3 separate regions of the Homo sapiens genome follow, and regions 2 and 3 are each linked to region 1. Evidence: fine-mapped expression QTL. A gene starts in region 1. Each other region holds a variant in brackets. All regions are shown on one strand. Distances are between the middles of the regions. Region 1 holds the start of AGRN (agrin). Region 2 holds the start of LINC02593 (long intergenic non-protein coding RNA 2593). Region 3 overlaps AGRN (agrin).

Region 1 (10,316 bases):
CACCCCTTCCCCCACCCATGCACCCTTCTCTGTCTCTCCTATTCCAATTTGCTAAATGAGTCTCCTAGAAGCCAGCTGTTGGCCGGGAAGCAGGGAGGACGGGGCACGGATGTCGGCTGGGATGCAGCGAGGACGGGGCACAGAGGGACATGCAGAGTCCGGACTCTGGGCACTTGGGCCTCAGCTTTCAGAGCCCTCGGGAGGATCCGGCTGGAGACACAGAGTCCCCCCTGGTCTGTGGGGGTCCATATCCAGGTGGGGAGACCCCCATCTGGCTGCACCAGGACCACTGTGTGTGCCCGCATGTGCCCAGCAGGGGGTGTCCTGGCTCCAGCCTTGTGTCCGGGTCCCCACCTCACCCCTGTGTCACAATGGGCGAGTGAAGCACTTAGCCAGGGGCCTTTCCTGAACCCCCAACGGGGGCAGGGCAGGGCAGGGCCTCCTTTGTGGCTTCTGGCTCAGAGATCTGTAGCTAGCCTGGGGTGAGAGGGGCACCACAGGCCCAGTCCTTTTTATTATTATTTTTTTTGACACGGAGTCTCGCTTTGTCGCCCAGGCTGGAGTGCAGTGGCGCGATCTCTGCTCACTGCAAGCTCCACCTCCCGGGTTCACGCCATTCTCCTGCCTCAGCCTCCCGAGTAGCTGGGACTACAGGCGCCCGCCACCACGCCCGGCTAATTTTTTTTTGTATTTTCAGTAGAGGCGGGGTTTCACCGTGTTAGCCAGGATGGTCTCGATCTCCTGACCTCGTGATCCGCCCATCTCGGCCTCCCAAAGTGCTGGGATTACAGGCGTGAGCCACCGCACCCGTGCTTTTTTTTTTTTTTTTGAGATAGAGTCTCACTCTGTCGCTCAGGCTGGAGTGCAGTGGCGCCATCTCGGTTCACTGCAACCTCCACCTCCCGGGTTCAAGCAATTCTCCTGCCTCAGCCTCCCAAGTAGTTGGGATTAATGGTGCCCGCCACCTCACCCAGCTAACTTTTTTTTGTGTTTTTAGTAGAGACAGCGTTTCACTGTATTGGCCAGGCTAGTCTCGAATTCCTGACCTCATGATCCGCCCGCTTCAGCCTTCCAAAGTGCTAGGGTTACAAGTGTGAGCCCCCGCACCCGGCCTAATTTTTGTATTTTTAGTAGAGATGGGGTTTCATCATGTTGGCCAGGCTGGTCTTGAACTCCTGGCCTCAAGTGGTCCGCCTGCCTCGGGCTCCCAAAATGCTGGGATTACAGGTGTGAACCACTGGGCCTGACTGACCCAGTCCTTTTTTTAAAAAAATTACTTACTTTTCCCAGGGTCATACTCTCAGCTAGGCTGGAGTGCAGTGGCACAATCACCGCTCACCGCAGCCTCCACCTCCCACACTCAAGTGATCCTCCCGCCTCAGCCTCCCGAGGAGCTGGGATTACAGGTGCGTGTCACCACACCTGGCTAATTTTGTATTTGTTTTGTTTTGTGTTTCTTTGAGATGGAGTTTCGCTCTGTCGCCCAGGCTGGAGTGCAGTGGTGTGATCTCGGCTCACTGCAAGCTCCACCTCCTGAGTTCAAGCGATTCTCCTGCCTCAGCCTCCTGACTGGCTGGGATTACAGGTGCGTGTCACCCGGCTAATTTTTTAGTAGAGGCAGTTTCACCATGTTGGTCAGGCTGGTCCCGAACTCCTGACCTTGTGATCCACTCCCCCCTTGGCTGCCCAAAGTGCTGGGATCACAAGCGTGAGTTACCGTGCCCTGTCTGTATTTATAGTAGAGACAGAGTTTCACCATGTTGGCCAGGCTGGTCTCGAACTACTGACCTCAAGTGATCCGCCCACCTCGGCCTCCCAAAGTGCTGGGATTACAGGCCTGAGCCACCACGCCCGGCCCGTCGACTAATTTTTTTTTTTTGAAACAGTCTCGCTCTGTCACCCAGGCTGGAGTGCAGTTGCACTGTGTCCAGAATTGGTGGGTTCTTGGTCTCACTGACTTCAAGAATGAAGCCACGGACCCTCGCGGTGAGTGTTACAGCTCTTAAGTCGGCGCGTCTTCAGTTCGTTCCTTCTGATGTTCGGATATGTTCGGAGTTTCTTCCTTCTGGTGGGTTCGTGGTCTCGCTGGCTCAGGAGTGAAGCTGCAGACCTTGGCGGCGAGTGTTACAGCTCTTAAGGCAGCGCGTCTGGATTTTTTGTTCCTCCCGGTGGGCTCGTGGTCTCGCTGGTTTCAGGAGTGAAGCTGCAGACCTTGGCGGTGAGTGTTACAGCTCATAAAAGCAGTGTGAACCCAAAAAGTGAGCAGTAGCAAGATTTATTGCAAAGAGCGAAAGAACAAAGCCTCCACTGTGTGGAAGGGGACCTGACCGGGTTGCCACTGCTAGCACCGGCAGCCTGCTTTTATTCTCTTATCTGGCCCCACCCACATCCTGCTGATGGGTAGAGCCTAGTGGTCTGTTTTGACAGGGCGCTGATTGGTGCATTTACAATCCCTGAGCTAGACACAAAGGTTCTCCACGTCCCCACCAGATTAGTTAGATACAGAGTATCCACACAAAGGTTCTCCAAGGCCCCACCAGAGTAGCTAGATACAGAGTCCACTGGCACATTCACAAACCCTGAGCTAGACACAGGGCGCTGATTGGTGTATTTACAAACCTTGAGCTAGATACAGAGTGCCGATTGGTGTATTTACAATCCCTGAGCTAGACATAAATGTTCTCCAAGGTCTCACCAGAGTAGCTAGATACAGAGTGTCCACTGGCGCATTCACAAACCCTGAGCTAGACACAGGGTGCTGATTGGTGTATTTACAAACCTTGAGCTAGATACAGAGTGCCGATTGGTGTATTTACAATCCCTGAGCTAGACATAAAGGTTCTCCAAGGCCCCACCAGAGTAGCTAGATACAGAGTGTCTGTCTATTGGTGCATTCACAGACTCTGAGCTAGACACAGGGTGCTGATTGGTGTATTTACAATCCCTGAGCTAGACATAAAGGTTCTCCACGTCTCCACCACTCAGGAGCCCAGCTGGCTTCACCCAGTGGATCCCGCACTGGGGCTGCAAGTGGAGCTGCCTGCCAGTCCTGCGCTGTGCACCCGCACTCCTCAGCCCTTGGGTGGTCATGGGACTAGGCACGGTGGAGCAGGGGGCAGCGCTCATCGGGGAGGCTTGGGCCGCACAGGAGCCCACGGAGGGGGTGGGAGGCTCAGGCATGGTGGGCTGCAGGTCCCCAGCTCTGCCCCGCCGGAAGGCAGCTAAGGCCTGGCGAGTAATCGAGTGCAGCGCCAGTGGGCTGGCACTGCTGGGGGACCCACTACACCCTCCGCAGCCGCTGGCCCGGGTGCTAAGCCCCTCATTGCTCCGGGCCGGCAGGGCCGGCCGGCTGCTCCAAGTGCGGGGCCCACCAAGCCCACGCCCACTCGGAACTCCAGCTGGCCCGCAAGAGCCGCGCGCAGCCCCGGTTCCCGCTCATGCCTCTCCCTCCACACCTCCCTGCAAGCTGAGGGAGCCGGCTCCCGCCTTGGCCAGCCCAGAAAGGGGCTCCCACAGTGCAGCGGTGGGCTGAAGGGCTCCTCAAGTGCCACCAAAGTGGGAGCCCAGGCAGAGGAGGCGTGAAGACCGAGAGAGGGCTGTGAGGACTGCCAGCACGCTGTCACCTCTCAGCACCATCTCAGCTCACTGCAACCTCCGCCTCCTGGGTTCAAGCGATTCTCCTGCCTCAGCCTCCCAAGTAGCTAGGACTACAGGCGCCTGCCACCACACCGGCCAATTTTTGTATTTTTAGTAGAGACGGGGTTTCACCATGTTGGCCAGGCTGGTCTCGAACTCCTGACCTCCCGTGATCCACCTGCCTCAGCCTCCCAAAGTGCTGGGATTACAGGCGTGAGCCACTGCGCCCGGCCCATCCAGCTAATTTTTAATTTTTTTGAGAGATGGGGTCTTGCTATTTTGCCCAGGCTAGTCTCGAACACCCGGTGTCAAGAGATCTTGCTGCCTCCGCCTCCCAGAGTGCTGGGATGACAGGCGTGAGTCACCACGCCCAGCCTAGACACAGTTCTGAAGGGACAAAGGGGGCCTCCGCTCCCTCCTTTCAATCTTCAGCTAGGCCAGGCTCCCACTTGGGTCCTCCAGCCCTCAGTTTCCCCCTGCACCCAGCCAGGCCAAGCTGCAGAGGCGCCCGGCCCAGAGCTGGGAAGGGGCGTGGCGGGACCCGCGCTTGCAGCCGCGGGACGGAAGGGGGCGCGAACCTCCCCGCGGCGGGGCCTGGGGGGGCGGGGCCGGGAGGGGCGGGGCCGCGCCCCGTGCTGGCCAATCAGCGCCCGCCCCGGCACCGGGACCCGCCTCCGCGCCGCAGCTCCCGGGGGGTCCGGCCCGGCCGAGCCTCGGTGTCCGGCCCCGCGGGGGAGGGGCGCGGCCTGCGGAGCGGGATCGGGGCCGGGTCTGGGGCCCCTCCCGGCGGCCTTCGAGCCCTGCCGCCCGGCTCCGCGCCGCCCGGAGCCCCTCGGCAGTCCCGTCACGTCTCCTCCAGATTAGGCATTAACTCGGGTGCAGCCGCACTTCCGGGGGGCCGCGGCGGGGGAGGGGCGCCTGCGGGATCCAGACCCGCCCCCCACTCTCCTCTCCCCGCCCCCTCCCGGGCCGCCCCTTTCCCGCCCCACGGCCGCGCCGGGCGCTGCGTCCCGGGGCTTTGTTCGCGGCGGCGCGGGTCGCCGGCCTCCGGGCGGGCCGGGGGAGGGAGGAGGGAGGGGGCGGGAGGGGGAAGGAAGGAGGAGGGGGAGGAGGAGGGCGCGGGGAGGGGGTAGGGGGGCGGGGAGGAGAGAGGGGGAGGGGCGCCGCCCTGGCCCCGCCCCCCCCCGCCCGCCCGCCCGCGCTCCGCCGCCTCCGGAGCTGCGTCCCGTCCTGTCCAGTCCCGTCCCCGGCGCGGCCCGCGCGCTCCTCCGCCGCCTCTCGCCTGCGCCATGGCCGGCCGGTCCCACCCGGGCCCGCTGCGGCCGCTGCTGCCGCTCCTTGTGGTGGCCGCGTGCGTCCTGCCCGGAGCCGGCGGGACATGCCCGGAGCGCGCGCTGGAGCGGCGCGAGGAGGAGGCGAACGTGGTGCTCACCGGGACGGTGGAGGAGATCCTCAACGTGGACCCGGTGCAGCACACGTACTCCTGCAAGGTGCGCCCACCCGGACCCCGGCCTCCCCTCGCGACGCCTGCCGCCCCGCCGGGACCCCCGCCCCAGGCCGTGGGAACCAGCCCCGGTCGCTCCGCAGCCCCCGCTCCGGCTCCCTTGGCGACCGCCAAGCCCCGGGAGGGGGGGTCGCCGGGTCCCGGGAAACTCGCGGGCGCCGGGGAAAGTTGCTGCGCCGCCGCCGTCCTCCGCCCGCCGCCGCCTCCCTCCTCGCGGAGACAAGTGCACCTCGCCCACGGACTGCGGCTGCCGCGCGCCCTCCCTACCGGCCGAGAAGGAGAGGGGCCTGGGGAGGGGGGGCCTTTGCCCGGGCGGGGAGCGGGGGCTGGGCCTGGGATCCGCTTGTTCCCCTCCCCAGAGGCCTTTCCCGGGGCGAGAGGGGTTGGTCAGGAGAGAAAAAGGGGCGCACAGCCTGAGCTCCCAACCCCGGGAGCCAGGTGGGGGGTGCCGCAGTGGTGCGGGGGGGGGGCGTGCAGGAGCAGAGAGGTGGGCGGGGCCGTCACCGGGCCTCGTGTGCTTGGGGGCAGGGCCGGTGCCCCATCGCGCTCCTGCGGGAACCGGGGCTCCCCACCCCGGGGAGGGGAAGTTTCCCTGGTTTCTCCTTCAGGTGCTTCTGGGAGCCCCCGGGGTAGGTACGCTGGGACCCCCACCATCTTCTCCTAGTAGGGGCTCGGGGGACCCAGAGCCGGCGCCCGTGTACCCCCAAAACCATCTCCTGGGACCAGAAATCCACTCATTTCCCTCCACGGAGGTGGAGAAGGTGGCAGCTTCTTTCAGACTGGCCGGTGCGGGCTACAGCTGGGCTCCCCCGCCGGCCCAGTCTCCTCCACAGCGGCCAGGGCACTTTGCCAGGCCCCTGCAGGATTTTCCCGACTTCCTCCCCGCTGCTCCTGGGTGTGGCTGGGGTGGGGGAAGGCGATGAAAGCCACCAGGCCCTCCCCCTGCCTGGGTCATCTGCCTCCTGGAGCCTACTGTTGGGGGGCGTGGAAGAGGCTCTGCCTGCGCAACTGGAGGGGGTCCCTGCGGATGCCGCAGTCCTGAGGCTCCCAGCAGGGGCTGCGCAGTGGACAGGCCAACCATTGTCTCTCCCCCCATCCGGCAGCCCCAGCCCCCCAGATCTGAGGAAGGGGCTGCTTCTCCCGGCTTTGTTCTCAGGGGAGTGCGTGAGTGCGTGGGTCCCTGTCCCCGTGAGGGCCGCCAGGTCGGCTGTAGCCTTTACCACAGGCCACCGTCAGAGCAGCTGCCCTCAGGGCCCCAGGAGCTGAGAAGGTGGAGGGTGGGGCACCCTGCACTGCCCAAACTTGATTTCGTGGTTCACAGGCTGCCCTGAGTGCACAGACTGTAGAAGCCCGAGGAAGGGGCGTCTCAGCCCAGCCACAGGGCCAAGCTGGCCCCTTACCCCAACGCCCCATCCCCCTCCTCCACTGCCCAAGCTTGCTGGGAGGTGGGCCCTGAGCACTGGGCAGGTGGGGAGAAGTGTGGAAGGCAGGCACCCCAAGCCAGGTGGGCCCCCTTCCCAAATTCGGCCTTAGCTGATAGGGACGTTATTGGAGCTGGGGTGGCTGAAGTTGGTTAGACCTGGGGGAGGGGATGTGTTCACAGGTGACGCATCTCTGAGCGTTCCCGCATGGGCTGTGGTGGCCAGTGTGGGCTTCCCCCAGCTTCCGCCCAGCGGGCTGACTCAGAGGTCTCCCCACATCTCTGCCCAGGGCTTGAGTCTACTGTGGACATTTGCCCTAAACACCTAAAGCCCCCAGTCTAGCCCCTTCCCCAGGAGAGGACTAATGACACCTACCGCCATGTCCACCCCAGGTTCGGGTCTGGCGGTACTTGAAGGGCAAAGACCTGGTGGCCCGGGAGAGCCTGCTGGACGGCGGCAACAAGGTGGTGATCAGCGGCTTTGGAGACCCCCTCATCTGTGACAACCAGGTGTCCACTGGGGACACCAGGATCTTCTTTGTGAACCCTGCACCCCCATACCTGTGGCCAGCCCACAAGAACGAGCTGATGCTCAACTCCAGCCTCATGCGGATCACCCTGCGGAACCTGGAGGAGGTGGAGTTCTGTGTGGAAGGTGCGTGGTGGGGGGCTCGTGTGGGGGCCTGTGGGGGTCAGGGCAGTGGCCAAGGGGGACAGGTTGCAGGGGTCGCTGTGCGGGGTCCTTTCGTGCTGTGCCGGAGGCTGCAGCACACGGTGTCTTGTGGTCCAACCTCATTCTCTGCTTCTCCGTCCCTGGCTCCCCAGCTGCATCTCCAAGCCCTCACATTAGACATCTTTGGCCCTGGGGCCCAAGGCAAGTCCCAGCCCTGCAAACAGATGGCCTCCTGCCTCCTCCCCTCCTCCCAGCTCTCCATACTTCCTTCTGGAGGCCCCTTCTAGGGAGAAGCTGGACAGGTGAATGTCCCCAGCTGTTCAAGCCCCTGTGTTAGCCCAGACCTCCGTCTAGACGGGCCCGCGTGTCGAGCACTCCTCGCCGTGGAGATCGGGCGGGAGGGCGAGGCTGTGCGGCGAGGGCTTCTGCGGATGTGGAGGGTGTGGCATTTGCCATCGTGAGGTCTTGCTTGCTGTTCCCATGGCTCTGCCGAAGGGCCGAGGAGTGGCCCTCCCTGACCCCAGCCTGGTGGGGGCAGAAATCCCATGGCAGCCCCCGCAGGACAAGTCCCAGTTGGGGACTGAGATCGTTGGCTGGGGAATGTGGCAGGGAAAATATAGGAGGTCCCTGTCGCCCCCACATCCTGTCTGCTCCCTCATGGCTGCCTGGGAAGGGATGTGTCGGTGGGGGGGTCTGGAGAGTGCTTCCTCCTCAAGGCAACGGTAAGGGTCCTGACTTCCCGTCTCTCCGATCTGCTCCGTTGGCCGGCAGGAAACTTTGCTGCCCTGACACTAGCCTGGCTCTTGAGGGGTCCTTGTGGGGTCCTGGACTGTCCACTGCTCTTGCCTTCTCTGTGCATGCCTGGGGGCTATGCAGGGGGAGGGGCAGCACCCAAAATAAGGAACGCTGCGGCCTTTTCCCCAGCCTGTGGTCAGTGGTCCCCAAGCTGCCTTCAGGGTCCAGGGCCTCAGTGCAGCACAGAGGAGGGTCCCCTGGGTCCCCCACTGGGAGGACATGATAACCTTGGTCCTCTTCTGGGCACTCATGGTCTGGGGAAAAGATGGGGGCATCGTGGACTCAGGATAGGCTGTCAGGAGCTGAGGAGGGGCTGGAGAAGGGGGTTAGGGCGAGGAGAGGTTCCTGTCCCTGCAAGATCAGGAGAGGGGGTCACTAACCCCACAGCCAGGTGGGTCCAGCCCGAGAGTCCGTGACTTAGTAGCTGAGGACTTGCTCTAGGGTCAGAGGGCACATGGCAGGAGAGTCACCCCGGCTGAACGAGGCTCTGCATCTTACCGAAGCCGCTCTACGGGTGCCAGGCACTGGCTCTGGAGCGAGTGCCCAGGCGGAGCAGAGCGCTGGGAGGAGGGTCCGTGGGGAGCCCCTGCCAGGTGGGTGTGGCTTAGCCCAGCTGTGGGCAGTCGCACTCAGGGACGAGCTCCAGGTGGGGAGCCTGGGACCCACAGCCAGTATGCAGCTTGGGGAGCACCCGGGAGGGGCTGTGGCCACCGGACCCCCTGGGGTGGGGCTGGCCAGGGGAGGGTTAGCCAGGGAGGACTGTCATGGGAGGGGCCTTGCAGGTGAGCCAGGGGCCAAGGGGAGCCTCAGGAGGGAAACAGCATGAGGAGTGGGGGAGCCCAGGAGCTTCCGGTGGGACATGTGGAGCTCTGCTGTGGAAGTAGACCAGGGATATCTCGGGTGGCTGGGGTCCCTGGCTGCCGGGACAGGGTAAATGCCTCCCAGAAGCCTGGGGTGAGCCCTGAGGGACAAGGTCTCTGGAGCCAGTCTGGCTGGAGAAGGGACAATTCTGTGTGCCCACCCCTCCCCTCACACTGGGTGGTGTGGGAGGTGGGTCCATCTCCTGCTCTGTAGGAGATAAGGACATTGAACCCCACCCTGGGCCCTCTGGTAGCCAAGGCCTCACCCTAGTGAGGGGGATGGATGGAGGGAGCTTGAGCCTAGCTGACCTCTCCCCATCTGACTCCGACCCCACCTCCCAGGGCACAGGATGGCGTCTGGGCAGCCCCTAGTCTTCAGAAGCTACCCCTGAGACCACAGGGTCCCACCTTGTATGGGAACCCCATCCTGGAGACAAAGGCCCCTCCGAGCTCCCCAGGTCGGGGAGGGCCACGCCCCTCACCACCCCTGCCCGGACACCGCCTGAGGTGCACCTGCTGCTGGGCCACACCTGGACTCAGCTCTACTGAGGACTTCCTTTCCTCAGTTTCTCACCTGGCCCTGCCAGATCTTCCTGGCCCTGCCCAGCCAAGGCCCCTCCCCCAGTCAACAACCCTCAGAAAGGCTCCTCCCCCCTTCTCTGCCTAGGGAGCCACATTCCTGGCATAACTAAGACAGGTATGTGTCCCTCCCTCTGCGCCACCTTTGGGCGGGGGAGGCCCGCTGCTCCCTCCGGAAGGAGACCCCCGCCCCTGCTTTGTCAGGGAAGTGGCCTGGCCTCCGCAGTGCCAGCTGCCCAGGGCTGGCGGCTGAGCGGGCGACTCCTCCGGCCCTCGCCACCCTGTCCTGTCTGGGCACTGCCCATGCCCTCCCAGCCCACCTCACAAAGGCTGGTCCTAGAGCCTCCCTGAAGCCCCCAGGAGGGACTCCTGGCTGAGGGCCGGCCAGGCCGCCCGGGGCCCATCCCTCCCTGCTAGGAGCCAGGAGCAGAGAAAGGGAGTGTTGTCTGCCCCTGCCGGGGCCTGGCACAGGGACAGGGCAGGGGGCCAGGGTCAGAGTGAGTCTGGCGCCTTCCCAGCCCGGCCCTGCCCAGCTCTGAAGCCCGGGGTCCCGGCGGCCTAGTCCCGGGCCCGCCTGTATTCCGGCGTGTGCACCCTCCCTTCCTCCCTGCCTGGCCAGCTGCCTAGGCCTCAGGACGGCAGTCCTAGGGGAAGCCCAGAGTCCCACGGCACCGGGGACAGCATCGGTGCTGGGGTTGAGGGGCCCGACAGCCCCAGACCAGGCTCCCCTCAGTGTGGGGCAGTCTAGGAGTTGGGGGAGGTTTCTGGGATGCAGGAGGACCTCCCATAGGGCTGGGGCCAGCCCCCTCTCCTGCCCAGGGCTCAGCTCCTGCCCCCAACTCCTCCGCA
Region 2 (10,316 bases), 100 kb before region 1:
TTCTAAGATTAAATCTCCTTCACAATGACAGCCTCCTGTCACCTGGGCCCTGGTGACAAAGCCTTTGGAGAGGCAAGGACCCAGCCGGGGCATTCACAGTGGGCATGCTATCCACCCTCCGCCCCTGTCCTGGCCCCCACAGTGGAGCCGCCACCTTGGGTAACAGGGGCTGCCTGAGGTCCTGGAGAAGGAAGAACCAGGTGGCCCACCTTCGGTGCACAGGGAACAGCAGGGACCTGACGGCAGCCCCCGCACCCCTCCCTGGGCTGAAGTTCAGGCTGTCTCATCCCTTGCCAGGAGCTCAGGGCTGAGCTAGGTTGGCAGGGGATGGGTTGAGGGTCTGTTGTCCAGCAGATTGCCCGGGCCCCACCCAGGCCACTCAGAAAACACCTGTGAGAGCCCCGCAGGCATGCAGGGCACTGTCGTGAGCACACCAGTGGGGACAGACGTCCAGGCAGGAGGGAGCAGCCAGACCCCCATCCCGCCAGGGTCACCAGGTGAGCAAGGCTGGGGAACAATGGAGGCGGAGCCCCGCGACTGCCCAGCTCACTGCCCCCAGTGTCCAGGCTGTGGTGCAGGCGTGGGGACCCAGGTGTGTTCAGGGGTCTCCTTCAGGGAAGGAGACCAAGCTGGGAGTCTGGGGAGGCTGAGGTGTGAGGTGACAGCAGGTAAAGAGTGAGCCACAATCAGCATTTTCACATGAAAGGAAACTACAGGCCTGGGCGCAGTGGCTCACGCCTGTAATCCCGGCACTGTGGGAGGCTGAGGTGGGAGGATCACCTGAGGTCGGGAGTTCGAGACCAGCCTGACCAACATGGAGAAACCCCATTTCTACTAAAAAAAATACAAAATTAGCTGGGCATGGTGGCGCATGCCTGTAATCCTAGCTATTCGGGAGGCTGAGACAGGAGAATCACTTGAACCCGGGAGGCGGAGGTTATGGAGAGCCAAGATCGCACCACTGCACCCCAGCCTGGGCAACAAGAGTAAAACTCCGTCTCAAAAAAAAAAAAAAAAGAAGAAAGAAAAAGAAAAAAAGAAAGGCAACTACAGAAGGTGAGGAGAACCACCCGAGATCACCAGAGGGAACCGTGGAAGGTCCGTGGTCCACCAGCCAGGCTGGGGCACCTCAGCCCCTGGGCAGAGCACCAAGCAGGGCCGTGCCCTGGTAAAGGAGGGCACAGTCAGCCCCAGACTACAAGCTGCCTTGGTCCTCCCAGCAGGGCTTAAAAGCAAGACCCCAAAGGACCAAACAGCTTCCAAGTAACTTCCTGGAGTCCTGAGCAAAGTAAGCTTTTCTCAGCTTTGCTACAAAAATAGTCAGCACCCAGCAAAATTCACAATCCCTGTCACCCATTCAAAAATCACCAGGCATGCGAGGAAGCAGGAAAAGGAAAATGCACCCAGAAGAGAAGGAGCACCCATCAACGGGGCCGCCTCAGAAGCAACAGACGACCGGGCAAGTCCAAGGGCACCGAGGCACCTGCCACCACTGCGCCCAGCACTCCCGAAGCCAGAGGGCAGGTGGGACATAGGTGGGGACGTTCTGAGCAAAAACGCATGCGGCCAAGCTGGGGTCGCCCGTGGGAAGAGGGCGAAACGCTTGCACGTGGGTAGGGCAGTCTCTGCAAAGGGCTGTGTGGGCTCCGGGACCAGATGCTGTGAGGGCCTCACCAGCTGCGAGGTGGCAGGACCAGATGCTGTAAGGGCCTCACCAGCTGCAAGGTGGCTGTCTCTGCCCCACCCCACACGCTCAATGCATGTTAATTTCATCTTGTTTCATTCTCATTCCCATTTTACAGATTGAGGTTCAGAGAAGTCAGAAGCCTTCCCAAGGCTGCACAGCCAGAAGTGGGCACAGCGTCCTGGGGTGAGGGCTCACACCATCTGCGCCACCTGCCCTCCAGGTCCCACCATCCTCACAAATTCAAGGCAAGGTTCTGGAACCCCCAGCCCTCCAGAAAGGGGAAGCTGAGCCCAGGAAGCACATCTGAGAGTTCGGGTCCGTGAGTTTACCCTGCGCTCACGCCGATTCCTCCTGCATCCTCTGTCGGGATGTCTGGATTCCAGAGTCCCCACCCTGATTTTCCAACCTTGCCTCAGCCTTGGCTTCTCCCTTTTGGGGTGGGACAGGGAACCCCAGCAGCAGGTGTATGAGGGCATGAGAGGGCAGGAGGTGCCCTATGCCTACCCGCCAGACCAGGGCCCCAGCCCTGGACACAGGGAGAGAGCATGAGCGCTGTTCCTGCTCCCACTCCCTCATCTGAGCAGGTGCTCCCAGGTACAGGTGCCGAGTCCCACCCAGAGGGGCCCTGCCACAACCAGAGGACTGACAAACCCAGACACAACTGTCTCTTCCCCCTGGTCAGGGTCTGGGCAAGGGTCCCTCTGGGCTGCTGTCCATGCTGTGAGTGTCCGTGCTGTGGGCCACTGCCGTGGGTGTCCGTGCTGTGGCCTGCTGTCGTGGGTGTCCGTGCTGTGGCCCGGTATGTGAGGTTGTGTTTCCAACAGGGAGTAATTTGGCTTTGGTTACCTGAGGGTCTGAGGACAGGCACTAAAGCCCCACCTTTCTGGCTTCCAGAGTTGCCGGCTCCAGCAGCAGCCTCCAGGCCTGAGCAGGCTCTGGGGCTCCCACACCTGGGGGGCCAGGGTGGGGGTGACAAAGGGCCCCAGGCGACGGCTGAGAGCCGGCCCTGAGCCGGCCAGGGCGGGCAGCAGAACAGCCACCAGCTCCCGCCAGGCCCTGGCAGCATGAGCGATGGCAGGCCCAGCGATAAGAAACTAATAATTTATGCTTCCAGCTCCCGGGGCCGGCGCCGAGGGAAGGTTGGGCCACAGCCTCCCCCGCACTGAGCGGCTGCAGTCCTTTATTGCACAAATTATTAACGACCAGAGAATGAATGACTCTGTAATCAGATCAGGTTGCCAGCACTTTTCATTGCATTTATTTGTATAAATTCTGAAGTCGGGGTCTGCCCTAAGCTCAGCAAGCCAGCGTCGTGCTGGCTGGGCGCCCAGGCCCCCACCCAGAAGGAACACCCGTCCCTCACCCTGCCCACGGGTTCCAGAGGACAGAGGGCTCAGGAAGGGGTGCAGGGAACTGCTCTGAGCCAGAAGCCGAGTTCATAGGCACCCAAAGCAGCCCTGGGCCAGGGTCAGAGCTCTGTCCTTGAACCTGCCTCAGGGAAGATTCCCAACTGTCCTCAGAGCCAGGGGCACCCAGGGCTTGGGAGCTGAAGGGGGGTGGGTCTGAGACCAGGAGAAGGCTCCCCAGCCCTGAGGGAACCCTCATCACCCCCCTGCTCTCCTCGATCCAGGAACCGTCCCAGGGTTGCCCCAGGCCTCCTGGCTCTCCCGCCTCCATCCCGTGGGCTTCCCGGGAGCCCCAGGCTGGTCTCCCACCTGCCCCCTCCTTTTCTGGTCTTGCCTGGGCTGGGCCCAGGGGCTCTGGCTGTGGGTTTTCTGTGCAGCACCTCGCAGTGAGCCTGACGCTGGTCCTCTCCTGAGCCCCCGTTTAATCTTATTGACCTCTCGTTACGCTACAGAGCGTAAATTCAGATTTAGAGATCTTATGTTCCATCATAAATTGGGCTGGCAGACTTCCGATCAACAAGATAAAGCTGTCTTCCGTGAGGCTGGTGTTTTATTAGTCTTGGTCCCAGTGCTGCAGGTGTGGGCTGGGGAGTGCCTGAGGGAGGGGCCTCTGCTTGGGACCCTTCCTGCCTGGGCGAGGGGCTGAGTCCCTCCTGCCGCCCGGGCTGGGCCCCAGGTACCTGGCGAACAAAGGGACCCTGAAATTGCCGCCTTTCCCCTGCCTCTTGGGCTCTGCATATGATTTCAGCCAATCCCTGCTGCCCAGCCTCGCCCACCCGCTTCTGGGGCCACCCCCGCGTTAAGCAGGGCTGTGCAGCATGGGGGTCCTGTTCTCATTCAGCCACCGGCACGGCCACCCCAGTGTGATTCCTCAGCAGCCACACAGAAGACAGATGGTCCATAGGAGACTCAGAAACAGAGAAGCCTCACGCCAGGTCCACAGAGGCACCCACGCCCGCCAAAAGGATGCCAC[G/A]CACTCACCCTGCCCTCTGGGGAGCACAGTGGGAGTCCAGGACACCGCCTTGGATGGGGTGAGGCTCCGTCTGTGACCTCAGAAAGTCAGTCTGGGGCTGGACTTGACATGGGAAACAGAATAAAACTGCCTGTCCACCTGAGCTTGCCGCCCTAAAAATCCCTGACATGATACAGAAGTCAGTGCTGACAGAGGGCCTGCTACCCCCAGTGACCCTGCCGGTGGGGTCTCAACCCACCCACTTCTTCTGGAGCAGCCGGTCACAGCTGTGGTCCTGCTGGCGCACACGGGTATGAGACCCTAAAACACACAGCGACTGCACAGTGCAACCCTGCATATCCCATTTGGGTACAAGTTTCATTACAGGAAGAAACACGGGGAGGGACCCCAGAGCAGCTCACGCGTGGGTACCCTCCGCTGTGTTAGCGTCCCGGCCCTCACACGGCACCCAGGCCTCGTTGGGGCAAGGCCTTGTGCAGACACGGTGGGATCTGCATGTGCACTGGGGCCTGTGCCTGGGCTGCTGCTCCCCGGCCACCGGTGTCAGGATCTCCAGGACCCCCATGAGTGGTCAGTGGAGCAGAGATGGCACAGACGCCAGCGACCTGGGTCATTCTCTACCTGGGATGTGGGACCCCAGAGACCATGCTGTGGGTCTTTATCTGCCTCTTCATGCAGGAGCAGGTGCGACCCCCGCCTGCCCCAGCCATGAGGCTCTGTCACAGGGGACCTCTGTGGCACCCTGTGCTGCAGGCAAGGCCTTAGGACAGATGCCACGCCACTGTCCAGGAGACTGTCTCCTGAGACTGACCTCCCCTTGCACTGGGCAATGTCTGCTGAAGATAAGGACGTCTTCACTGGGCCAGGCCTGGAGTTCTCCCAGATCGTGAGCTTTCCTCTCTCTGATGAAGAGGATACCTGTGGTCAAACTCCTACAGAGCACTGGGGACAGGAAGGCAGGCAGAGTCCCACCTGGGCAGGTGGTAGGAGTGGAAGGAGCAGGCAGGCAGCAGGGCTGCCCAGGGCTAGGAGTCTGGCTGTGAGCAGGGCCCACCCTCCCCTGGACACAATGGAGGACCCCGTGTGTGGTTTTCACTGACTGAGCACCTATCTCGTGCCAGACATGTGGGATTGCCGGTGAATTAACAAAAGCCCTGCTCTCAGGGGGCTCCCATCCCAGCACATACACCGTCACATCTGGGGTCCAGCCTGGACCCCCCCATGCAGTTGGAGAGGGTCTCAGAACCAGGTCTGAGAACAGCAACTTCCAGCCACGGCACCCCACCCCTCCCCAGCTGGCCTGGGCTCCAGCTCCTCGCACCTGAGGCTGCCTGTGCAGGGCCCCCGGCTGGTGCCCCTCTCCTCTGAAGCTCGGGGGTCGCCACAGCCTGGCACCCTCATCGGGCCTGTTACGCACGTTCTGGTCTCTCCGTGCCCACAGACCCGCCAAGCTCACCAGCCAATGTGCAGCCAGCACAAGCCCGACCTGCTAGGGGCCTCAGAACAAGCGGTGTGGCCCGAGGCCGTCACACAGCACCTGTGCTGAGAGTGAGCTGACGTGGACGGCGGCACCGTGGCCGTGGCAGAGGCACCATCCCTCCACCCTCACTCATGTAGGGATGTGGGGCACACGGACTGGAGCCCAAGGCCTTCGTGCTGGGCCCTGGCTCTGCACTCGGCTCCCAGAGTCTCCCACCCAATGTCAGAGAGGGTGCCGCAACAGTGCTTCGGGGGCTCCTGTCATGAGGGCTGAGGACCACCTAGGCCCACGTCCGCCCAGCAGGTGGCAGCTGCATCCCCGGTCCCCTCCACAACCCGGGCCAGGTCCAGGCTGCAGGCCGCAGTGTTGGCAGGGGGAGGAGAGGGTGAAATTGGCTGAGCCCATCCATTGGGACAGACCCTCCCGCTCCTTGGGGCTCTGGAGAACTCTATTCCTTCTCTTTGCTTAACCTCAAGGTGCTGGGGCCTCTGGCTGCTGCAGCATTTACAGAGGAATTGTCTGGGATGTGCCGGGCCGAGCACTGTAGCTCTCGCCGGTGTCTGCGTCAGCACGCTAGTGACATGGCAGGTGAGGACCACGGCACCGCCCCTGCGATCTGGCAGTCAGAGCCCACCTGTGTGTCTGCAGGAGCATCCCTGACTACACACCACGGGACGGCAGGGAAGGGTCCCTCGGGCCCCACCCCTTTGTTCTTTCAATGGTAAAGGTTCAGGTCGGTGGACAGACTGGACTTGGAAACACCTTCTTGCGTCCTCGAAACGACGTGGCACGCAGCCAGCTCACAGCACCCAAAGGCACGGGCAAGTTGCATCACGGCAGCCCCTCCTGTCTGACCAGGAGCAGGTGCGTTCCTGAGGTCCTGGCCACTTCTGCAGGAGCGTCCGAGGGAGCCCAGCTGATATACCACAGCCCCTGACCTCCCAGGTTAGCCTTTCCATCCAACAGCACCAGGACTGGACAGGCCACCTTGGCTGAGGATCACGTGTGCCTGGGTCTGGGCGGTGCTGATGCCCACAGGCCCTGAGTCTGTGTTGCGCACAGGCCTTGGAAAGCAGTGCACATCCTGTCTGCACCGGTGTCTATAGTGAAGCCATCTTTGTCCGTGTGGCCATGGGAGGGTCTGTCTGTGCTGTGTGTGTGTCCTGCGCGCGTCGGGAGCTGCTGCGCCACACACAGGCACGCAGGGTGTGGGCACACCTGTGCTTCTGAGCCCACGTGCCCTTGCCGGTGGCCAGGCACACACACAGCTGTGCATCCTTGGCCCAAGATCAGCTGTGCCACACCTGCAGGCTGCAGGATCTTTTCTGTATATCTCCCTCCATCACCAGAAGTAAGCTCAGGACTGAGGCTGACAGGCTGGTCTGAGCGCTGCTCACCTGCACCTCCTGGCTGCACCTGTGGCCCCGGACTCAGCTTCCCCATCTCTCTCCTCCCCACCCCACCTCTGGGTCATCTCCGGCTGGGGCTGTACCACATCTGGGCTCAATAAATGGTTGATTGATTGATGAGGGGATGGATGAGAAGGGCTCTAAGAGAAATGCTGGGGAGCCTGGGCAGGCACTCCCGGATGGCGGAGGCGGCATGCGGGCTGGGGCAGCGGCCCCTGGCGCCCCCACACTCCCCCAGGACGTCTGGGGTCACCGTCTGCTCCATGGCAGCCCCAGGGTTATTTATGACCTCCTCCCTCTGGCGGCGGGAGGCAGGCTCCAGCCTCAGCCCAGCGGCGGAGGGGCCCCAGCAGGGGGACCCGGAGCAGCGACAGAGGCACCAAGGCCCAGGCAGGCGGGGCTCGGTGGGCCGGAGGAGGGGCGGTGGAGTCCACACCGCCAGGTCCCTGCCTCGCTCAGGATGATTCCAGCGCCAGAACTCCGTTCCTCTGGCCTCTGCCGCCAGCCTGAGGAGTGCAGGGGAGAGTGGGGCCCAGGTGTCCCAGACCAAGACAGGTGTGTGAGTGGACATGGGACACAGGTGTGGTAGTGGAGGACACGTGTGAGCAAGTGAACACATCACACAGATGTGCGAGCAGACACAAGACATGGGACACAGGTGCGCCAGTGAACACGGGACTGGTGTAAGCCAGCGGGCATGAGACACGGGTGTGAGCGAGTGGACACGGGACACGTGTGAGTGGGCACGGACAGTACAGGTGTGAGCGAGTGGACACGAGACACAGGTGTGGGAGTGGACACAGGTGTGTGGGAGTGGACACAGAACAGGTGTGAACATGGACACGGACACGGGTGTGTGTGAGTGGACAGGACCAAGGAAGGGGCACAACCCCGTGGAAAAGGGTGATGCTGGGGGTGAGGAGCCTGGTCCTGTGGGAACGTGGCCTCTGAACGGGTGCCTGCTTCCCAGGAAGACAAGGAGGTGGTGGGGAAGGCCTCCTCACCCAGCCCCTGGAGGGACCTCCAGAACATCAGGGAGTGGACAGTGAGGATAGAGGGGTGCCTCCAGCTTTGGACCCAGTCAGGGTCTTTTCTGGAAGACACCATGGGCCCCGGGTAGGCCCCCACACCCAGCCAGAAACCCAGGGCCAGCCCCATGCCCCTCCTTAACCACACTGTGGGCCTGAGCATGATGAGATGCTGGTGAACAGGGGAGGGCTCTTGGAAGGGAAAGGAGGCCCCTCTGCTGGCCCAGGTCAGAGGAGAGGCCTGGCCCAAGGGCCTCAGACCCTGAGAGGCACTGCCATGCAGACCTGCGCCTCCCCAGCCTCCCTCTCCAAATCACTGTGTGAACATCAGGGAGTCAGGTGCAGGCGAACCTAGAAGGAGGGTCAGGTGCAGGTGAACCTAGTAGCCCACACACGGGCAGTAGGGTCAGGGCTGCATCCAGACAGTGGGCACTCAGGGCCAGTCCACATGGCCTCCAGCTGGCCCCAGGAGCAGACTTTCCACATGGTATCAGACCTGGGAGAAGACACAGACTTCAGGAGAGGAAGGCACAGGAACTCACTGGCAGCCACAGCTGGGGTCAGGGATGTGCTGGTGTCCTGGATGCAGACAGGTTGATAGGGCCAAGGGTGGCCACATAAGGAAGGGTCACCGACACTCACACCCACACTCCTACCTGGCCCCCCAGACCCCAACAGACCAACGAGCCCCCACAGAACAGGGCCAGGATAGCGGGGGAGGCTTCTGGGCATGTTCCTTGCCTGAGCAGAGCACTCCTGGCCCAGACCTCACTCCGCGGGTTGGCTGTGGGACCAGCAGAAGCCTCTGGTGAGATAAGGTGAAGGAGCCCAGCGTGGTCACCCAGGGTCAGGTTTATGCTCAAGGAAGCTGGTCTGGCAGGAGGTGGTGGTGGGCTGTTCCCTCCCTCGAAGAAGGCACCTGTGCAAACAGGCCTGTGGCCCACTCACCCCTGGACCTGCTCTGGGAGATGCCCACAGGGACATGCCAGCTGCATCTCAAGGGCAGGGGCCAGGGTCAGAACAGGAGGCCCCTTTCTAGTGGATGCAACACCGCACAGCAGCGCAGGACAAGGCTGTCTCACCTGCTGTTACCAACGCCCCCAGGTTGTGTTTCTCTTCGGAACGCTCCAGATGCAATGCCGATCTGGGCACGCAGGGAGGTGGGGGGTGATGGGAAGCTCACCAGGAACCAGGGACTGGGGCCCAGACTGACCTGTCAGAAGGCACCAAGGTGGACGTGGTGTGGCCGGTCCTGCTTCACTAGCCTTGCTCCTCCTAGTGGGAGGCCGTGCACTCTGCCAACCCGCTATCCCCCACCCTCACCCTGCCTCGGATCCACACCACCTTCCTGCTGGGAGGTGTGGGGTGACAGGAAGCTCTTGCCCCACACCATGGTCCTGGCGCGGTCCTGGTGTGAGACATCCTGCATTTGAAACAGCTGTGTGACTTCAGGAGAGTTACTTGACCTTTCTGTCTCAGCGTCTTCTGCAAAAGACTGAACAGGAACTCCGTGGCTCGGGCGAACTCACTCCTGTCAAGTGCATAGGAAGGGGCACGAGTGGGCGGGGAGGTGCTGCCCTGTTATTCACAGAACACTTTGCCCAGGCAACACACTACAAATCCACAACCTCGCTCCCTGCAGGTGCACTGAGACCACCCACGCCCTCCCGGACACCAACGCCCACCATCAGATTCGCTGCGCAAAGTCCCAGAGCCGCCGGCGCACGCTCACACCCCGGCGAGCAGCCCCCAGCTCCCTCCCTCCGAGAGGAGCCCGGTCCGCGACCAGCCCAGCCCATCCCAGTCCCGCGCGGAGTCCTGGATTCCAGCCGCTCGCAGTGACTCGGTACTCGGGATAGTGCCGGGGGCCGCAGCCCTGTCCCGCTGCCGCCGCCGGATGCCCCGAGTCGGCCGTCACGCACCCCCCGCGGGAGCCCGCGCCGCCCGCCGCGCCGGGGCCGTTTAAATGGGCCAAGTTGTGGCGGCGGCGTCGGCGGCGGAGTCTCCCAAGTCCCCGCCGGGCGGGCGCGCGCCAGTGGACGCGGGTGCACGACTGACGCGGCCCGGGCGGCGGGGCGGGGGCTTGGGACCCCCGAGAGGGGCGGGGACTCCGCGACTCCTCGCTGCCGGGCTCGGCCTGGCGGGTGGGTCGGCGAGCCGGGCGTGGGACTGCCCCGGGCGCGGGCGCTGGTGGCCGGGGCGCGGGACTCCAGACGCCCCGGGGAGCCCCGAGGCCCTGGAACTGCGGCGCTCGGCGAGTCGATCCGGGATCGATAGCAGCTCCATGTCTCCGGCCTCTGAGGCCCCGCCGGCCGGCTGGGCAGTCCGGGGAG
Region 3 (8,889 bases), 29 kb after region 1:
CTGCGTTGGGCCCCTGTGGACGTGTGTATTGTGTTGTAAGTGAGCATCGTCCAGTGTTGGTGCCTGTGCACATTTGTGCAGCTGCGTGTGTGGGCGTGTGTGTCCATCAGTCAGTGGGCGTGCACCAGGCCAGGCCTCAGTGCTGAGAGGCAGCGTGAACCATGCGGGGCCCCACCGTGTGGGCACTTTCTCTGCATACGTCCATCCGGTCGATGTATCACATCAATTAGGTAAAAGTGGTGCCCGGTGTGTGTGATGCGCGTGCACAGATGTGTGTCTGCAGAGGGGCGTTAACTGTACGGTTTGGAGGAATGTGGGTGAGAACGCATGCTGACGTCTTCAGATGTCTGTTTCTCGATTTGCAAGGAAGCTCGCGTGTGTGTGTGCACAGAGCTGCGTGTCCGTGATCTTTGGATGCTCTGTGTGTTGTGTGTTCCTGGATCTGCATTTACAGACATGTTCTTGCGTAAGATGTGGGAGCCTCACCTGTGTCCTCAGCCCCAGGCTCCCGGGCTCCTCTGGGAGCTGGGATCGGGACGGCTGAGTGGTGACAGTGGGGGTAGGTGGAGGCAGACTGGCTGGGTCCAGGGTGGGTGTCCAGCACTGCATGAAATCTGAGTCCCGTACCCTTTCCTGCAGGCCCCACCTTCGCCCCGCTGCCGCCTGTGGCCCCCTTACACTGTGCCCAGACGCCCTACGGCTGCTGCCAGGACAATATCACCGCAGCCCGGGGCGTGGGCCTGGCTGGCTGCCCCAGTGAGTACCTGAGCTCAGCCCCGACCCCGGGCCTGGTGCGGCTGTGCGGCCACGTGACCTTGTCCTGCCCTGGCCTTTCAGGTGCCTGCCAGTGCAACCCCCATGGCTCTTACGGCGGCACCTGTGACCCAGCCACAGGCCAGTGCTCCTGCCGCCCAGGTGTGGGGGGCCTCAGGTGTGACCGCTGTGAGCCTGGCTTCTGGAACTTTCGAGGCATCGTCACCGATGGCCGGAGTGGCTGTACACGTGAGTGACAGGGCCCAGGACTGGCCACCGGCTATGCCCTCCTACCTGTTCACCCCCATCACTGTGCTTCTCCTCACCTGCCCAGGCCCTGGCCTGACCCACACCTGGCTGGGGGCTGGGCAGAGCCAGGGTTGGGGACCAGGCTCTGGAGGAGGTGGGGAAGCCCGTCCAGGTGCGGACATCACGTTCCTCCCCGATTTTCCCCAAAGCCTGCAGCTGTGATCCCCAAGGCGCCGTGCGGGATGACTGTGAGCAGATGACGGGGCTGTGCTCGTGTAAGCCCGGGGTGGCTGGACCCAAGTGTGGGCAGTGTCCAGACGGCCGTGCCCTGGGCCCCGCGGGCTGTGAAGCTGGTGAGTGAGGGCCAGCGCTACCCTGGGGCTTCATGGGGTGGGGTGGGGTCACCCGAGCCACAGAGGTTTCCCATGCCCGTGCCCCAGACGCTTCTGCGCCTGCGACCTGTGCGGAGATGCGCTGTGAGTTCGGTGCGCGGTGCGTGGAGGAGTCTGGCTCAGCCCACTGTGTCTGCCCGATGCTCACCTGTCCAGAGGCCAACGCTACCAAGGTGAGGGGTGTGGGATGTGAAGGGGAGTGGGGAGGAGGCCTCGCCTTGAACATCCTTGTTCTCTGCCCCAGGTCTGTGGGTCAGATGGAGTCACATACGGCAACGAGTGTCAGCTGAAGACCATCGCCTGCCGCCAGGGCCTGCAAATCTCTATCCAGAGCCTGGGCCCGTGCCAGGGTGAGGCCTGACGGCCACTGCCCCAGAACTGACCAGGAAGGCCTGACGCTGCCCTAAATCCAGCCCCACCCGCCCTGAGCCACCTGACCCTGTCCCAACCGGTCCCCCCGCCAACCTCCCTCTCCTTGCAGAGGCTGTTGCTCCCAGCACTCACCCGACATCTGCCTCCGTGACTGTGACCACCCCAGGGCTCCTCCTGAGCCAGGCACTGCCGGCCCCCCCCGGCGCCCTCCCCCTGGCTCCCAGCAGTACCGCACACAGCCAGACCACCCCTCCGCCCTCATCACGACCTCGGACCACTGCCAGCGTCCCCAGGACCACCGTGTGGCCCGTGCTGACGGTGCCCCCCACGGCACCCTCCCCTGCACCCAGCCTGGTGGCGTCCGCCTTTGGTGAATCTGGCAGCACTGATGGAAGCAGCGATGAGGAACTGAGCGGGGACCAGGAGGCCAGTGGGGGTGGCTCTGGGGGTGAGCAGGGATCAAGGACTTGGGGTGGGTGGGCAGGCGCCGAGAGGCTCCACCAGAGCCTGGGCTCAGAGCGCGTCTCCCCAGGGCTCGAGCCCTTGGAGGGCAGCAGCGTGGCCACCCCTGGGCCACCTGTCGAGAGGGCTTCCTGCTACAACTCCGCGTTGGGCTGCTGCTCTGATGGGAAGACGCCCTCGCTGGACGCAGAGGGCTCCAACTGCCCCGGTGAGTGGACGGCTGGGCGAGGGGAGTGTGAGGATAGCCTGGGCTCGGCCGAGGTGCTGCCCCCTCGCCTGGGCAGCAGGTCAGTGCCGGGGGTTATGGTCTTGGGACTCGGCCCCCTCAAACATGTGCGTGCCGGGGACCCCACGCCTAACCCGTCTCTCTCGTTGCAAGCCGGTGTGGCACACTGCTCTGAGGAGTCCTCCTGGTAACCGACACCAGCCCCACCCTGGGGTCCCCACTAACCTCATGACCATCTGACTAACATCCACCTTCCCTTGCACCCTTGTGGCTTGCTGCTGGGGCCTGTGCCTGGGCCAGCCTGGATGCCAGGCAGATGCCAGGCAGGGCCTCACTGTACCTCCCCCACAGCCACCAAGGTGTTCCAGGGCGTCCTGGAGCTGGAGGGCGTCGAGGGCCAGGAGCTGTTCTACACGCCCGAGATGGCTGACCCCAAGTCAGAACTGTTCGGGGAGACAGCCAGGAGCATTGAGAGCACCGTAAGACGGGGGCGCAGCCCCCACCTACCCACTGGCCTTCCTCCCCAGATACCCAGAGCAGCACCAGGGCAGCCCGGCTTGGGCGGCCCCCCAAGTCCTTGCCTACTCCCTGCCACAGCTGGACGACCTCTTCCGGAATTCAGACGTCAAGAAGGATTTTCGGAGTGTCCGCTTGCGGGACCTGGGGCCCGGCAAATCCGTCCGCGCCATTGTGGATGTGCACTTTGACCCCAGTGAGACCTGCACCCTGGACCCTTCCTGGGAGGCAATGGGTGGGGGATGCCTGGGGCTCTGCCATGCTCAGAGCTCCCTCCTCCCCAGCCACAGCCTTCAGGGCACCCGACGTGGCCCGGGCCCTGCTCCGGCAGATCCAGGTGTCCAGGCGCCGGTCCTTGGGGGTGAGGCGGCCGCTGCAGGAGCACGTGCGATTTATGGACTTTGGTGAGCGCCAGGCCACGAGCCACAGCTTACCTGCCCCCTCCTCTGCCCATGCCCCTGCCCCTCACCCCTTCCTGGCCCTGCTCCCAGGAAACCCTAACAGCTCCCTGTGCCGGCAGACTGGTTTCCTGCGTTTATCACGGGGGCCACGTCAGGAGCCATTGCTGCGGGAGCCACGGCCAGAGCCACCACTGCATCGCGCCTGCCGTCCTCTGCTGTGACCCCTCGGGCCCCGCACCCCAGTCACACAAGCCAGCCCGTTGCCAAGACCACGGCAGCCCCCACCACACGTCGGCCCCCCACCACTGCCCCCAGCCGTGTGCCCGGACGTCGGCCCCCGGCCCCCCAGCAGCCTCCAAAGCCCTGTGACTCACAGCCCTGCTTCCACGGGGGGACCTGCCAGGACTGGGCATTGGGCGGGGGCTTCACCTGCAGCTGCCCGGCAGGCAGGGGAGGCGCCGTCTGTGAGAAGGGTAAGGATGTCCACTGCAGAGGAGGGCGGGGAGGCAGCAGGGTGGGGGCAAGGATTGGGGGTGGGGCTAAGCCACCATCAGGCTTTGAGTTGGGGGCAGGAGCCCGGATTAAGGCGGGGTTTCGGCCAGATGCGGTGGCTCACGCCTGTAATCCCAGCACTTTGGGAGGCCGAGGCAGGCGGATCACCTGAGGTCGGGAGTTCGAGACCAGCCTGACCAACATGGAGACACTCTGTCTCTACTAAAAATACAAAATTAGCCGGGCGTGGTGGTGGGCGCCTGTAATCCCACCTCGTGAGGCTGAGGCAGGAGAATCGCTTGAACCTGGCAGGCGGAGGTTGCGGTGAGCCAGGATCGCGCCACTGCACTCCAGCCGGGGCAAAAAGAGCAAAACTCCGTCTCAAAAAAAAAAAAAAAAAAAAAAGCAGGGGGCGGTTTCAGGGATAAAAGTGGGGAATCCTCGGAGCTTTTCCAGCCGGCCCTCCCGGTCGCCCTTTGCAGTGCTTGGCGCCCCTGTGCCGGCCTTCGAGGGCCGCTCCTTCCTGGCCTTCCCCACTCTCCGCGCCTACCACACGCTGCGCCTGGCACTGGAATTCCGGGCGCTGGAGCCTCAGGGGCTGCTGCTGTACAATGGCAACGCCCGGGGCAAGGACTTCCTGGCATTGGCGCTGCTAGATGGCCGCGTGCAGCTCAGGTGGGCGGGGAGGGGACGGGGCCGGGGCAGCTCAGGTGGGCGGGGAGGGGACG[GGC/G]GGGGGAGGGGGGGCCGGGGCAGCTCAGGTGGGTGGGGTGGGGACGGGGGCGGGGCAGCTCAGGTAGGCGGGGTGGGGACGGGGCCGGGCGATGGTCCTGAGCACCTGCTCCTGCCCTCAGGTTTGACACAGGTTCGGGGCCGGCGGTGCTGACCAGTGCCGTGCCGGTAGAGCCGGGCCAGTGGCACCGCCTGGAGCTGTCCCGGCACTGGCGCCGGGGCACCCTCTCGGTGGATGGTGAGACCCCTGTTCTGGGCGAGAGTCCCAGTGGCACCGACGGCCTCAACCTGGACACAGACCTCTTTGTGGGCGGCGTACCCGAGGACCAGGCTGCCGTGTGAGTCCCTTGGAGGGTGGTGTGGCCCCGACCCCGGCCCTTTGGGGTCCCGGTGTACGAGGTGGCTTTGCCTGTGGCCCCTGAGCCCTGACCCGGTGTCCCTCCTGGTGGCAGGGCGCTGGAGCGGACCTTCGTGGGCGCCGGCCTGAGGGGGTGCATCCGTTTGCTGGACGTCAACAACCAGCGCCTGGAGCTTGGCATTGGGCCGGGGGCTGCCACCCGAGGCTCTGGCGTGGGCGAGTGCGGGGACCACCCCTGCCTGCCCAACCCCTGCCATGGCGGGGCCCCATGCCAGAACCTGGAGGCTGGAAGGTTCCATTGCCAGTGCCCGCCCGGCCGCGTCGGTGAGGGTGGGGCCGGGGCGGGTGGGAGTGGGACCCCGGGGCCTGTGGGCGGTACCCAACCGACGCCTCCTGGGACCTCGGTCCCGGTCCCGTCTTCCTCCATCCAGGACCAACCTGTGCCGATGAGAAGAGCCCCTGCCAGCCCAACCCCTGCCATGGGGCGGCGCCCTGCCGTGTGCTGCCCGAGGGTGGTGCTCAGTGCGAGTGCCCCCTGGGGCGTGAGGGCACCTTCTGCCAGACAGGTCGGGGGCGTGGGGCTCTCGGGGCAGGGGGGGGGGGGGGGTTGAACGTTTGGGCGGGTACAGGTTCCAGGTAGCATTGCAGTTAGGATGCGGCTCAGTCTAGTCTGGGTTTTGAGTTAGGATCCACACACGGCTGGCATGGGGTGCAGGAGGCCCCGGGGGTCAGGACTGAGGCCTTGGTGACTCTCCCTACAGCCTCGGGGCAGGACGGCTCTGGGCCCTTCCTGGCTGACTTCAACGGCTTCTCCCACCTGGAGCTGAGAGGCCTGCACACCTTTGCACGGGACCTGGGGTCGGTGGGGCAGGAGCAGGGGGAAGGGCCGGCCCCCACCTCCGTCTCTCCTGTGGGGAGGGGACAGCAAAGACACCCCGACTCCCCATGACCCCAGGGAGAAGATGGCGCTGGAGGTCGTGTTCCTGGCACGAGGCCCCAGCGGCCTCCTGCTCTACAACGGGCAGAAGACGGACGGCAAGGGGGACTTCGTGTCGCTGGCACTGCGGGACCGCCGCCTGGAGTTCCGCTACGACCTGGGCAAGGGGGCAGCGGTCATCAGGTGGGCCGGCAAGGGTGGCTCTGGGAGGCCTGGGGCACTGGCCCGGGGCCGGGGCACCAGCAGGTCGCTCAGGCCCTGGGTGGTCGCGTGGCCGGTGGTGGACAGAGCCCACTCACGCTGCCCCTCCTCACCAGGAGCAGGGAGCCAGTCACCCTGGGAGCCTGGACCAGGGTCTCACTGGAGCGAAACGGCCGCAAGGGTGCCCTGCGTGTGGGCGACGGCCCCCGTGTGTTGGGGGAGTCCCCGGTGAGTGCTCTGGGCCGCGAGGGGACTCCCGCTGCTGCCTGCTCTTCCTCCTCGGGCGGCAGCCCCGCCCCTGCCGGCGCTCACGGAGCTGTTTTTCTGTCCTGTTCTCTTGGCCGCCTGCCCTGTCCTCTGCCTCCTCTGCCTCCCTGCTCTCTGCTCTCGCTCTGCAACCCCACCCGCTCTTCGGAGGCCAGAAATCCCGCAAGGTACTGTCGGCCTCTCATCCGCTCACCGTCTCTGGCGCCTCAACCCCTAGGGTAGCTCCTCCCCCACTAAGGACCCTGCCATTTCTGTGTGATTAACGCTGCCCCCTAGATAGGCAATGGGCGGGTGGGGCGGGTGCGTGCAGGTGCCTGGGCCCTGGGTCTGCACCGTGGGTGGGCTCTGCACAGCCACTTACCTGGCGTCCCCGCAGGTTCCGCACACCGTCCTCAACCTGAAGGAGCCGCTCTACGTAGGGGGCGCTCCCGACTTCAGCAAGCTGGCCCGTGCTGCTGCCGTGTCCTCTGGCTTCGACGGTGCCATCCAGCTGGTATGTGGGGGCGGGGCGTCCCAGCAGGGCCTCCGGGGCGGGCGGGGTGGCAGGCGGGACAAGGCCCTCACCCTGCCCTGCAGGTCTCCCTCGGAGGCCGCCAGCTGCTGACCCCGGAGCACGTGCTGCGGCAGGTGGACGTCACGTCCTTTGCAGGTCACCCCTGCACCCGGGCCTCAGGCCACCCCTGCCTCAATGGGGCCTCCTGCGTCCCGAGGGAGGCTGCCTATGTGTGCCTGTGTCCCGGGGGATTCTCAGGACCGCACTGCGAGAAGGGTGAGCCTGGCACAGGGCAGGGGGCGGAGGCCGGATGGGCCCGGAGCCCACGAGGCCCCACCCTCACCTGCCTATCTCACAGGGCTGGTGGAGAAGTCAGCGGGGGACGTGGATACCTTGGCCTTTGACGGGCGGACCTTTGTCGAGTACCTCAACGCTGTGACCGAGAGGTAACGTGCCATCCTCTGCTGGCTGTCGGTTCCATCTGTGCCCTCGGGGCGGGACACCGGACCCCCACACCAGGAGGGCCCAGGAGGGGACGGCCCGGTGCTGCCACCTCTGTCCTCCCGCCTCTCTCTCACCTCCCGGTCCTCCCGCCTCTCACTGTCTGTCTCTTTGTTTCCAAGCGAACTGGCCAATGAGATCCCCGTGTGAGTAGAGCTCGGCGCCCCCCGCTCCCTCTCACTCCCACTCCTCCATCCTTCCTGGTGGGGAGCAGAGTCCGGAGCCCCCGGGGAACTTTCCATCCCTTGTGGCGGAGGATGGGGGTCCGGCGCTATTTGGCTGCAAGAGGCCGTTTCCTGCCTCAGAAGTGCAGTCGCCCCTCCCAGGGCACAGGCCGAGGGTCGCCCCACAGCCAACCCCCACCACTGAGGCTGTACACACCTGTGCGCATATGCATGCATGTCTGTGTCCGTGTGCACTTCCGCGTGTGTGAACATGCAGCTGTGTCTGTGCGTGTCTATGTATATGGAGTGGATGTGCAAGTGTGTGTGAATATCCAGCTGTGTGTGTGCATGGGTCCATGTATATGTGTGTGTGTATATGTGGGGGGGACATGTAGATATGCGTGTGTGACTATGCGGCCGTGTGTGTGCATGGCTCCATGTATGTGTGTGTATATGAGGGAGACATGCAGGTATGTGTCCGTGTGTGTGTGTGTGCATATGGGTCCATGTATGTGTGTGTATATGAGGGAGACACGCAGGTGTGTGTCTGAGTGTGTGCGCACATGGGTCCATGTATGTGTGTGTATAGGTGAGGGAGACATGCATGTGTGTGTCCGTGTGTGTGCATGGGTCCATGTGTGTATAGTGTGTACACATGGGTCCATGTATGTGTGTGTATATGAGGGAGACACGCAGGTGTGTGTCCGAGTGTGTGTGCATGGGTCCATGTGTGTATAGTGTGTGCACATGGGTCCATGTATGTGTGTGTATATGAGGGAGACACGCAGGTGTGTGTCCGAGTGTGTGTCCATGGGTCCATGTATGTGTGTGTATATGTGGGGGAGACAGGTGTGTGTCCGAGTGTGTGCATGGGTCCGTGTATATGCGTGTATATATGGGGGGATATGTAGATGTGTGTGTGTATGAACAGGTGTAAGTGGGGAGCACTCAGGTGTGTCTGTGTGTGTTCGTGTACACGTGTGTATGTGTGTGAACATGGAGGGGTGTGTGTGTCCGTGTGTAGGTTTGCGTGCATGCACACATGCATGTGTGTACTGGGGCATCCAAGCCCCTGGTCTCCACTCCATACCACCCTACGCCTACCTCCTTGATCTCTGCGCCCAGCCTTGGCTGTGCTCCCCTGCTGTCTGCACGTGGGTGTCTGCACGTGGGTGTCTGCATGTGGGTGTCTGTGCCCTCAAGTGTCTCGTGTCTGCACGTGGGTGTCTGCACCCTCACGTGTCTCGTGTCCGCACAAGCATGTGTAGGTGTCCCTGCTGGGCTCTTTGGTGGGCGGCCAGTGATCCTCGAGGTCACGCATGTCTTCTGTGGGTGCCTGCTCCTTGCACCCCACAGTGTTGAGATGGGTTTGCATT

What was found. PIP is the estimated chance that this variant, and not a neighbour inherited with it, causes the effect.
Region 2: its variant is fine-mapped to the expression of AGRN in whole blood (TOPMed, PIP above 0.99).
Region 3: its variant is fine-mapped to the expression of AGRN in whole blood (INTERVAL, PIP 0.98).

Annotation. Positions count from the first base shown.
Region 1 is chr1:1,015,248-1,025,563 of GRCh38, forward strand. AGRN (agrin) reads left to right here and starts at 4,873. Exons shown (of 36, transcript NM_198576.4): 1 at 4,873-5,126; 2 at 6,954-7,215. The coding sequence starts at 4,926. RefSeq lists enhancers at 1-3, 6,145-7,344, 8,529-9,505, 9,506-10,316 and silencers at 289-509, 4,187-4,636.
Region 2 is chr1:913,948-924,263 of GRCh38, forward strand. LINC02593 (long intergenic non-protein coding RNA 2593) reads right to left here and starts at 5,745. Exons shown (of 4, transcript NR_122045.1): 1 at 5,388-5,745; 2 at 4,878-4,968; 3 at 4,075-4,168; 4 at 2,871-3,773. It overlaps LOC284600 (a long non-coding RNA gene), which reads left to right. Exons shown (of 5, transcript XR_007065342.1): 2 at 1-1,524; 3 at 1,803-2,002; 4 at 3,935-4,124; 5 at 6,023-7,072. LOC107985728 (collagen alpha-1(III) chain-like) reads right to left here. Exons shown (of 5, transcript NR_168405.1): 2 at 9,328-9,514; 3 at 9,066-9,196; 4 at 8,725-8,788; 5 at 6,296-8,562. SAMD11 (sterile alpha motif domain containing 11) reads left to right here and starts at 9,976. Exons shown (of 14, transcript NM_001385641.1): 1 at 9,976-10,316. RefSeq lists enhancers at 6,243-7,179, 9,021-9,599. The variant G/A (reference allele first, on the strand shown) is at 4,067.
Region 3 is chr1:1,044,522-1,053,410 of GRCh38, forward strand. It overlaps AGRN (agrin), which reads left to right. Exons shown (of 36, transcript NM_198576.4): 13 at 640-756; 14 at 838-1,002; 15 at 1,212-1,355; 16 at 1,443-1,567; 17 at 1,639-1,744; 18 at 1,876-2,214; 19 at 2,299-2,436; 20 at 2,806-2,933; 21 at 3,052-3,166; 22 at 3,255-3,374; 23 at 3,491-3,844; 24 at 4,346-4,538; 25 at 4,715-4,930; 26 at 5,045-5,274; 7 more. Among named protein-coding and RNA genes, the nearest start is that of RNF223, 25 kb to the right of the region's middle. RefSeq lists a silencer at 6,170-6,269. The variant GGC/G (reference allele first, on the strand shown) is at 4,592.